Linked DNA regions of Homo sapiens. The protein of the gene in region 2 purifies or fractionates together with the protein of the main gene of each other region. This does not show direct contact. Each region holds a gene or a part of one and is shown on either strand. Other genes may lie near its edges.

What was found.
Region 1: the proteins of ZNF185 (region 2) and TRMU purify together in Homo sapiens (affinity purification with mass spectrometry; one large-scale study listed by BioGRID and IntAct). This does not show direct contact.

The regions. Positions count from the first base shown.
Region 1 is NC_000022.11:46,342,151-46,346,012, reverse strand, and holds part of TRMU (mitochondrial tRNA-specific 2-thiouridylase 1), read right to left. Parts: intron 2,754-3,862; exon of another isoform or gene 2,752-2,753; coding exon 2,645-2,751; intron 1-2,644. UniProt on the Homo sapiens protein: Catalyzes the 2-thiolation of uridine at the wobble position (U34) of mitochondrial tRNA(Lys), tRNA(Glu) and tRNA(Gln).
Region 2 is NC_000023.11:152,914,812-152,918,566, reverse strand, and holds part of ZNF185 (zinc finger protein 185), read right to left. Parts: coding exon 3,734-3,755; intron 3,430-3,733; coding exon 3,364-3,429; intron 1,437-3,363; coding exon 1,398-1,436; intron 1,283-1,397; coding exon 1,205-1,282; intron 725-1,204; exon of another isoform or gene 503-724; coding exon 413-502; intron 1-412. UniProt on the Homo sapiens protein: May be involved in the regulation of cellular proliferation and/or differentiation.

The DNA.
Region 1 (3,862 bases), on a different chromosome or scaffold from region 2:
GATGATTGCTTGTGCTCAGGAGTTCAAGACCAGCCTGGGCAACATGGTGAAATCCCACCTTTACAAAAAATACAAAAATTAGCCAGGCGTGGTGGGGCACACCTGTAGTCCCAGCCACTTGGGAGGCTGAGGTGGGAGGATTGCTTCAACCTGGGAGGTTGAGGCTGCAGGAAGCCAAGACTGCACCACAGCACTCTAGTCTGGGCAACAGAGCAAGATGCTGTCTCAGGAGGAAAAAAAAAAAAAAAAGAACCAAAATGTTCAACACTGGGAGAATGTGAAGTGAATGACAATGCACTGCCGTAACAATGGGGGTCCTTACAGAGAATGTTTACTAACACGGGAAAATGCCCGGCACTGTTCAGCAGGGCGAGGATGTAACACCATGATTCCACGGTTTTTACTGTACAGAAACAGTTGAAGAAAAATCTCAGGTCTATTCCTTTGATTCTGAGAGTGAAATTATAGGTGTCGTTTCTCCTCTTTTAAATTTTCTGTAATAAATATGTATTATTTTCATCAGAGTGAAGAATCATCCAGCACACTGTTTCTTCTTTTCATATTACACAAAGCCAAAGAGCCTAACAAGGTGCATATGAATCCAGAACCTTTTCATTGTGTAAAAATTCCAGATATTTGGGCCAGGCGCAGCGGCTCACGCCTGTCATCCCAGCACTTTTAGGAGGCCGATGTGGGTGGATCACTTGAGGTCAGGAGTTTGAGACCAGCCTGGCCAACATGATGAAACCCCGTCTCTACAAAAAAAGTACAAAAATTAGCTAGACATGTTGGTGGGCACCTGTAATCCCAGCTACTTGGGAGGCTGAGGCAGGAGAATTGCTTGAACTCAGGAGGTGGAGGTTGCAGTGAGCCGAGATCACACCACTGCACTCCAGCCTGGGAGACAGAGTGAGACTCCATCTCAAAAAAAGAAAAAATTACAGATATTTAGTATTGCAAGAGACTTTTATGAAAGGTGCAGCAAAATGGATTCCATCCTGGACCAACCACACTAGCTCAGTGTAAACAGAAGACACAGCCATCCTGGACCAGCCACACTAGCTCCATGTAAACAGAAGACACAGCAAGAATTAGCTGCTGCATATTAACGACCTGAAAAAGGCACTTTAGAGACACATAATCTCATCTTGACTGAGGTTCTCCTAGAGAAAACAATCCACTTTACATCTGTGTCCTCAAAGAACAGCACTTATACTAGAAAAAGCGCAGGATGCCTCTGAGAAGCGCGGTGAGTTCAGAAGTCTGGGCGTCATGTCCTCTCATCCTGTGCTGCACGGTTCATGCCTTTCTTCCAGGTGTGGAAACATTCACTGCAGAAGTTCCTTCCACAGCGTGCCTGACAGCCAGCCACCTAGGGGCTCCCTAAAAAGCTTTCGTGACAGCTTAATGCTCTCCAAAGGCAAGCCTTCCCTTCCTGAACAGCTGCCTGCGCCTCCACCTCAGGGAACTCTTTCTCCTGCCAGTCCTAACTGTCTGCTGGTGTCACACAAAGAATGTCATCCTAACTCACACGCTTGACCACTGCCACTACGACCCAAAGTAATTTCAACAGTTCAGGGAGGACATATTTCCAGATACCCTGAAAATAAAAATCAATTCACATTCTATCAGTCTATCACTCTTTTCCTGAATAACTAATACGGTCTAACCAGGACGGACCACAGGGGACGCATCACCCCTTCCTAGACATTCTATGATCATCAAGGTGAGCTCCGTCTGTGCTGGCTCTGACAAAAGACATCACACTACTGGCTCAGTCAGCCTGGGGGCACCTAAATCCCCCAGATTTTCTGCAACCAATGGCAGAAGATTCAATGGCAACCAAGCTAGGTCTTTCCAATCTTGTCCTAGGAGAATTACTGAACCTAGTTAGCAAACTTTGCATTTATCTCTATTAAGTTTCATGTTTTTGGTGTTAGCCCAATGTTGAAATTTAAGATTTTTCTTTTTGATTTTTTGTTTTTGTAGGCATTTGTTTATTCCTAACTCCACAAACTAACTTTCATCATTATCATCAACTCAGCTTTAGGTTGCTGACATATTGAATCTGCAAGCCTAATCTACATCATTGCTGAAAGTGCCGACACTACTGGGCCCCTGGCTTACAATGGTATCTCGTAGCAACACACAACAGGGTGAGCTGCAGTGGGACAGAGCAAACCAAGAAGCCTGAGCCAGAACTTCAGAAACTCATTATGGTGACCCCAATGGCAGGGGACAGGAAGAAGAACCTAAAATTCATAAAGCATAGCCACAGACATCAAGAGGTGGTCTAAGCAAGCAATTCAGTATCAGGAGGTTCCACAAGAAGAAACAGGCTAGGCACAGGGGCTCACGCTTGTAATCTCAGCACTTTGGAAGGCCGAGGCAGGAGGACTGCTTAAGGCCAGAAATCTGAGACCAGCCTGGACAATACAGTTGTGACACCATCTCCACAAAAAATTAGCCACCATGGTGGCATGCCTGTGGTCCAAGCTACTCAGGAGCCTGGGGTGGGAGAATCTCTTGAGCCCAGGAGGTCGAGGCTGCAGTGAGTCATGATCGCACCACTGCAATCCAGCCTGGGTGACAGAGCGAGACCCTGTCTTTAAAAAAAAAAATGTTTTAAACCCAAATTACTTACCAAGATTATCCACAGCATAATGAAAAAAGCAACTAAATTTGATGTGCTTGTTGCAAACTATGTCAGGATTGGGAGTCCTTCCTTTTTCATACTCATTCAAAAAGTCACTAGAATAAAAGAAAATGACTTCAGTTCCAAGTGTGAAACATTCCTCAAAAAAAAAAAAAAAGTTCACTAAATTGCTTGTTTAATGTAATTTCCCCTTGTCATACCAAAACTATAATTTTCTGCAAAACAGGAGAACGTCAGTCATCGAACATTTGTTTATAACCTGCTGCATGGGCCACCCGACAAGGTGTTATTCTCTGCCACTACGGCTCAGGAGCCACCGTCTCTGTGTAGGCTCACAGGGCTTATGGGGTCAGGAGTGGGGAGTGGCCGTGAGGGTCTCACTAAAACCCTGCCTCTGGGACTCCTCCAACACAGCAGGGCTTAGGTGAGGAAGAGAAGATGCCTGAGTGACAGTGGAAATGAAATCCTTTAGACTTCCCTTGCAGATTCTCCCACCTCAGCCTTCCGAATAGCTGTGATTACAGGTGCGCAGCACCATGCCCAGATAATTTTTGTATTTTTAGTAGAGACGGGGTTTCACCATGTTGGCCAGGCTGGTCTCCAACTCCTGGCCTCAAGTGATCTGCCCGCCTCAGCCTCCCAAAATGCTGGAATTAGAGGCGTGAGCCACCGCACCTGGCCCACTGCAACCTTTTCTTTTTTTATAGAGATGAGGTCTTGCCATGTTGCCCATGCTGATACTGAACTCCAGGCCTCAAGCAAGTCTCCTGCCTCAGCCTCCTAAAGTGCTAGGATTACAAGCGTCTACCTTTCTGACTGTGGGTCTTAAGACCCTCCCCAGACACAGTCCCACTGTATATCCTGGGGGAAGGAATGGCGATGTCATGAAGCCTCCATAAAAACCCAGGAGTACTGGGTTCAGAGAGCTTCTGCACAGCTACACTTGTGGAGGCTCCTGGAGGGTGGTCCCCAGGGAGGGTGTGGACACTCCATGACCCTTTCCCCATACCTCACCCAACCCGTCTCTTCATCTGTATCCTTTGCAACATCCTTTATAATAAACTGGTAAATGTGTTTTTCTGAGTTCTGTGAACCACTCCAGCAAATTATTAATAATTGAACCCAAAGAGGAAGTTATGGGAATCCCAACTGGAAGCCAGTTGGTCATAAGTTCTAGAGGCCCATACTTTCGACTGCTGTTGTGGG
Region 2 (3,755 bases):
TCAGACTGACAGCAGCACCCTGAGGATCCCCAGGCCCCCAGCCCAGTGCAGCCAGGCAGAGCACCTGAGGCTCGGCCGGGTGCAGGGCCAAGCCCAGGAAGCACAGCCAGCCAGCAGCAGCCTCACGACCCATGACCCTTTCCCCAGATCCGTGGGGCCCCTCCTACAAGCTTCCTGCGGTCTCCGCTCTGCCTCGGATCAGACGTGCAATGTGCACAGCCATCCAGTTTTCTGGGGCTTGTTACCCTCTGGTGGGCTCCAGGCCACAGCTGCAACTGGCAGGGAGTGTCAGGCAGGCGGGACTTCCCGGGCTGTGCTCGGTGGCAAGTAGTCAGCTGCCTTCAGTGGACCCAGAGTTTGGACTTGTTCCTTGGAGGAGGGAACCACGCTGAGCCTGGCGTTGCATACTCACAGCTTCTTGTAATCCTCAGTGGTCATCTTGTAGCCAGAGGAGGAGGGGCGGGGAGGACCAGCGTTAGCTGTTCTCACCAGACTGGCAGCACTAGAGAGGAGAAGGTTCCATGTGTCTACCTGCAGGCTCCCTCCTGCCTCCAGATTTGGCCACACAGCCCAGTGGACACATGAGAGGTGGACCAGGAGCTGCCTGGGAGCCTTTCCTCTTTGCTTTTGGCCCTGACAGACACCCGGAACTGCGCCACTCAGAGCAGCTGTGTAGGCAAACCCCACCGAGCTTCAGGGAACAGCCCAGCGGGCTCTTGCCTGTGTCTTTGCTTCCTGTTTCCGGGTCCCCTTGGCCTTTCCAGTCTGACGGAGTCCCAGGCAATGCCTGATGCCAAGGTGCTTGAATTGCATGCAACTTCAGCCTTCTCAATGCCATCAGCAAGTCAAGTCAAGGGTGCCCACTGCCAGGCTAGGGGGACTCTACACCCAGCCCCTCCCAAACTCCTGCACCTCTCTGTCCCATTAGCCAGGCCTAGTCAGGACTGACCCCAGGACAAGGACACTGTTAGTGGCCCAGGACCTCCCAGAGACCCACACATCCACTTGGGACTGCCAGTCCCACCCCAGCCCATCTCCTCTGGTCACCCCACCCTGCTCTCCAGGGTCCTGCCCTACCCAGGATGAAAGCTGGCACCTCCAAGGCCCCACAGTCCTGATAGGCAGAGCACTGTCTCTGCCAGGAGCCCAGACCAGGCCCTCACACCTCCCCACTGGCCGACTGGCCAACACCCCATGGACATACCTTTTTGGAGTCCCGTTGGCCTTGGGGAACTGCTGCTGGGGCTGGGAAGAGCTGTCTATGGGCTTGGTGAACACTCCCCTGAAAGAGAGCCCAGGAGATGCCGGTGAGCTCCCTGGAGGGACTGGAGGGGTAAGAAGTCAGGGCTTGGCGTGAGTGGGCACAGGAAGGCCGGCAGAGTCCTGCGGTCACTTACCGGATGATGTAGCCAGTGGGAGCCCTTGTGCTCGGAGGCCTGCCGAAGAGAAGAAGGGGTGGAGTGAAGCGAGGCTTGCTGGAGGGCTGAGGTCATCCTACTTTATCCTGCCCTTAACGATAGCAAATAAGATTGGCTGGCAAGTGCTCCAGGTGTCCCAGTACAGCAGAAACGAGGGGTGCCAGCCCCCTGTGCCCCTGATCAGGTGCCCGCTATGCTCTGCCTATTTCCCTCATGCTCCCCCAGGAAAAGTGCCCCAGGTGACTCCTCATGGCAGGTGCCTAGGAAGGCAGCTTGATGGCCTCTCCAAAGTCCAGCTTCTCCTTGGCCAGCCAGTTCCCAGTGCTGCGCCGACGGAGCACTGCTCTCAGCTGACAGCCCTCCCATCCTCTGTGCTTGGGGCTGAACCAGTGCAAGCTGGAGGCTCCCCAGTCAGAGCCAGAGGCTTCCCCTCAGCCCGGGGTCTGACCTGATCTCCCTCAACAGCCTCCACCAGGAAGGTGCATGAGGGCTTGAAGGGGAGAGCCCAGGCAGCAGCCAGCCGAAGCCAGCTGTCCCCCTTCCTGTCCCTCGGGGCCCTCTTTGCTCCAGCTCCTTGCATGCCCACACCCCAAGTCTTGGTGGAAGTTTGAGACGAGAGGGCGCGGCCAGGCCTTGTTCAGCGGCTGGGAAACATTAGGCTCTGGGTGCTTGGGACCTCCTGCTTGGCAGCAACTGAGGGGGCTCAGATAACTCAGGGGGCAGCCAAGACGAGCGGGCAGGGAGCTGACAGCCAGGGGTGGTCAGCCTGGAAGTTCTGGCCTCCGGGCAGGAGTTAGGGGCCCCTGCAAAGAGTCCTCCTCAGAGTTAGGGGAGGAGTCAAGGGGTCAGGGTAGACCCTTCTGTCCTGCAGTGGAGGGGATGTGGGCTGGAGCATCGGGGTTTGGGTCAAGGGCAACACAGAGCCTCCGGTAGTCTCCAACCCCACAATCTCCATCTCTAACAGGGGACAGCCTCCCAGAGGTGGCCATGTTGCAGGCACACTTGGGGGTTCTCGCTTTTGTATTGAACTGTTTACTAGGGTCCTGCCTGAGTCCCCTGCTGGGACGTCAGTTGCCCAAAGACAGGGCCTTTGTCTTGACCACTCCTGCATCCTCTGTGCCCAGCATGGGACCTGGCAGGTAGTGGGCGCTGAGTCATCGAGGGGTGACAGAGAGACCGTAGTTACTAAAGGTAGCCCTGTGTGCTGGCTGTAAACTTGAGGCCCTCCCTTCCAGAGGCCGCCACTGCCTCTACCACCCCCTGAGAAGCCGCCTGCCGGCTGTTTGGAGCAAGGAGCGAGCCTGAATTTCAGTTCCCTTTCTCTGTCAGGAGCAGTTCCTCCAGAGGCCAGCAGGGTGTGCCCACGCTTCAGAGCCCCCCTAGACACTGTTATGGAAAAGCCCCCAAAAGAGAGAGAAGCCAGTTCTCCTTGGTCAGCTGACAAAATATGTCACGGTAAACTTGGGAGACAGTCAGAGCAAACTCGTGCCTCTCTACAGGCATGCTGAGTCCCAAGTACACTCAAGCAGTCAGGGTGACCTGCAGGAGTGAGTCACTGTGACTCTGGAAGCTGCCCAAAGCATCTCAGAGGCAGTATCACTCCCTGCAGGGAATGGGTGGGAGGTCGTCTTCTTCTTAAAGACAATTTCAATCCCAGTTAACAGCTGGAGCCACGGAGGCCCAGCAGGGAAGTCAGCTGCCCCACAGCCACACAGCCAGGCCAAGGGCCTGGACCAAGTGACTCCTACACTCCCCTTCCCAAAAGGAAGGTGCAGTGGAGAAGCCCCTCCTTCCTGCAGATTTCAAATTACTCATTGCAGACCCTTGGCTGGGGCTGCATCCCTGTCCCCTGTGGACTGCCCACCCCTCCCTGTTGAGGGCTGGCCCCAAGCTGCAGGAGAGTCCCTGGGGCTGACCCACCAGCCACCTGAGCACCACCTCTTACCTAGGCTTCGGAACCTCCCCAGCTGATGAAAAGGATGTGGCGCGACTCCGGCCTGAGGGCAGCTCTCTGGGGGAAAGAGGCATCCTGAAGGATTGGCTCCGAGACTCCCTGTCACCTGCCATCCTGTGGCCTCCATCCTAGAGGCTGCCCAGCAAGTCCTGCCATTTCTGCCACACATTCTCCTTCCCAGGCACCCAGGGGCTCTCCCACCCTGTGACATTGCTGGATAGCCTTTCCCACGCTCTGCCCTCCACATGGCCTGGCGGAGCTCTGAATGGTGGAAGCCCCTTCGCATCCCCAGGTATGGTCGGTCCCCCACGGATTGCGCGCCCCCACGTTGCTGCGGTCCCTCCCCGCCTCCTTGCCTTACATGGTGCGACCCTCCGATTCAT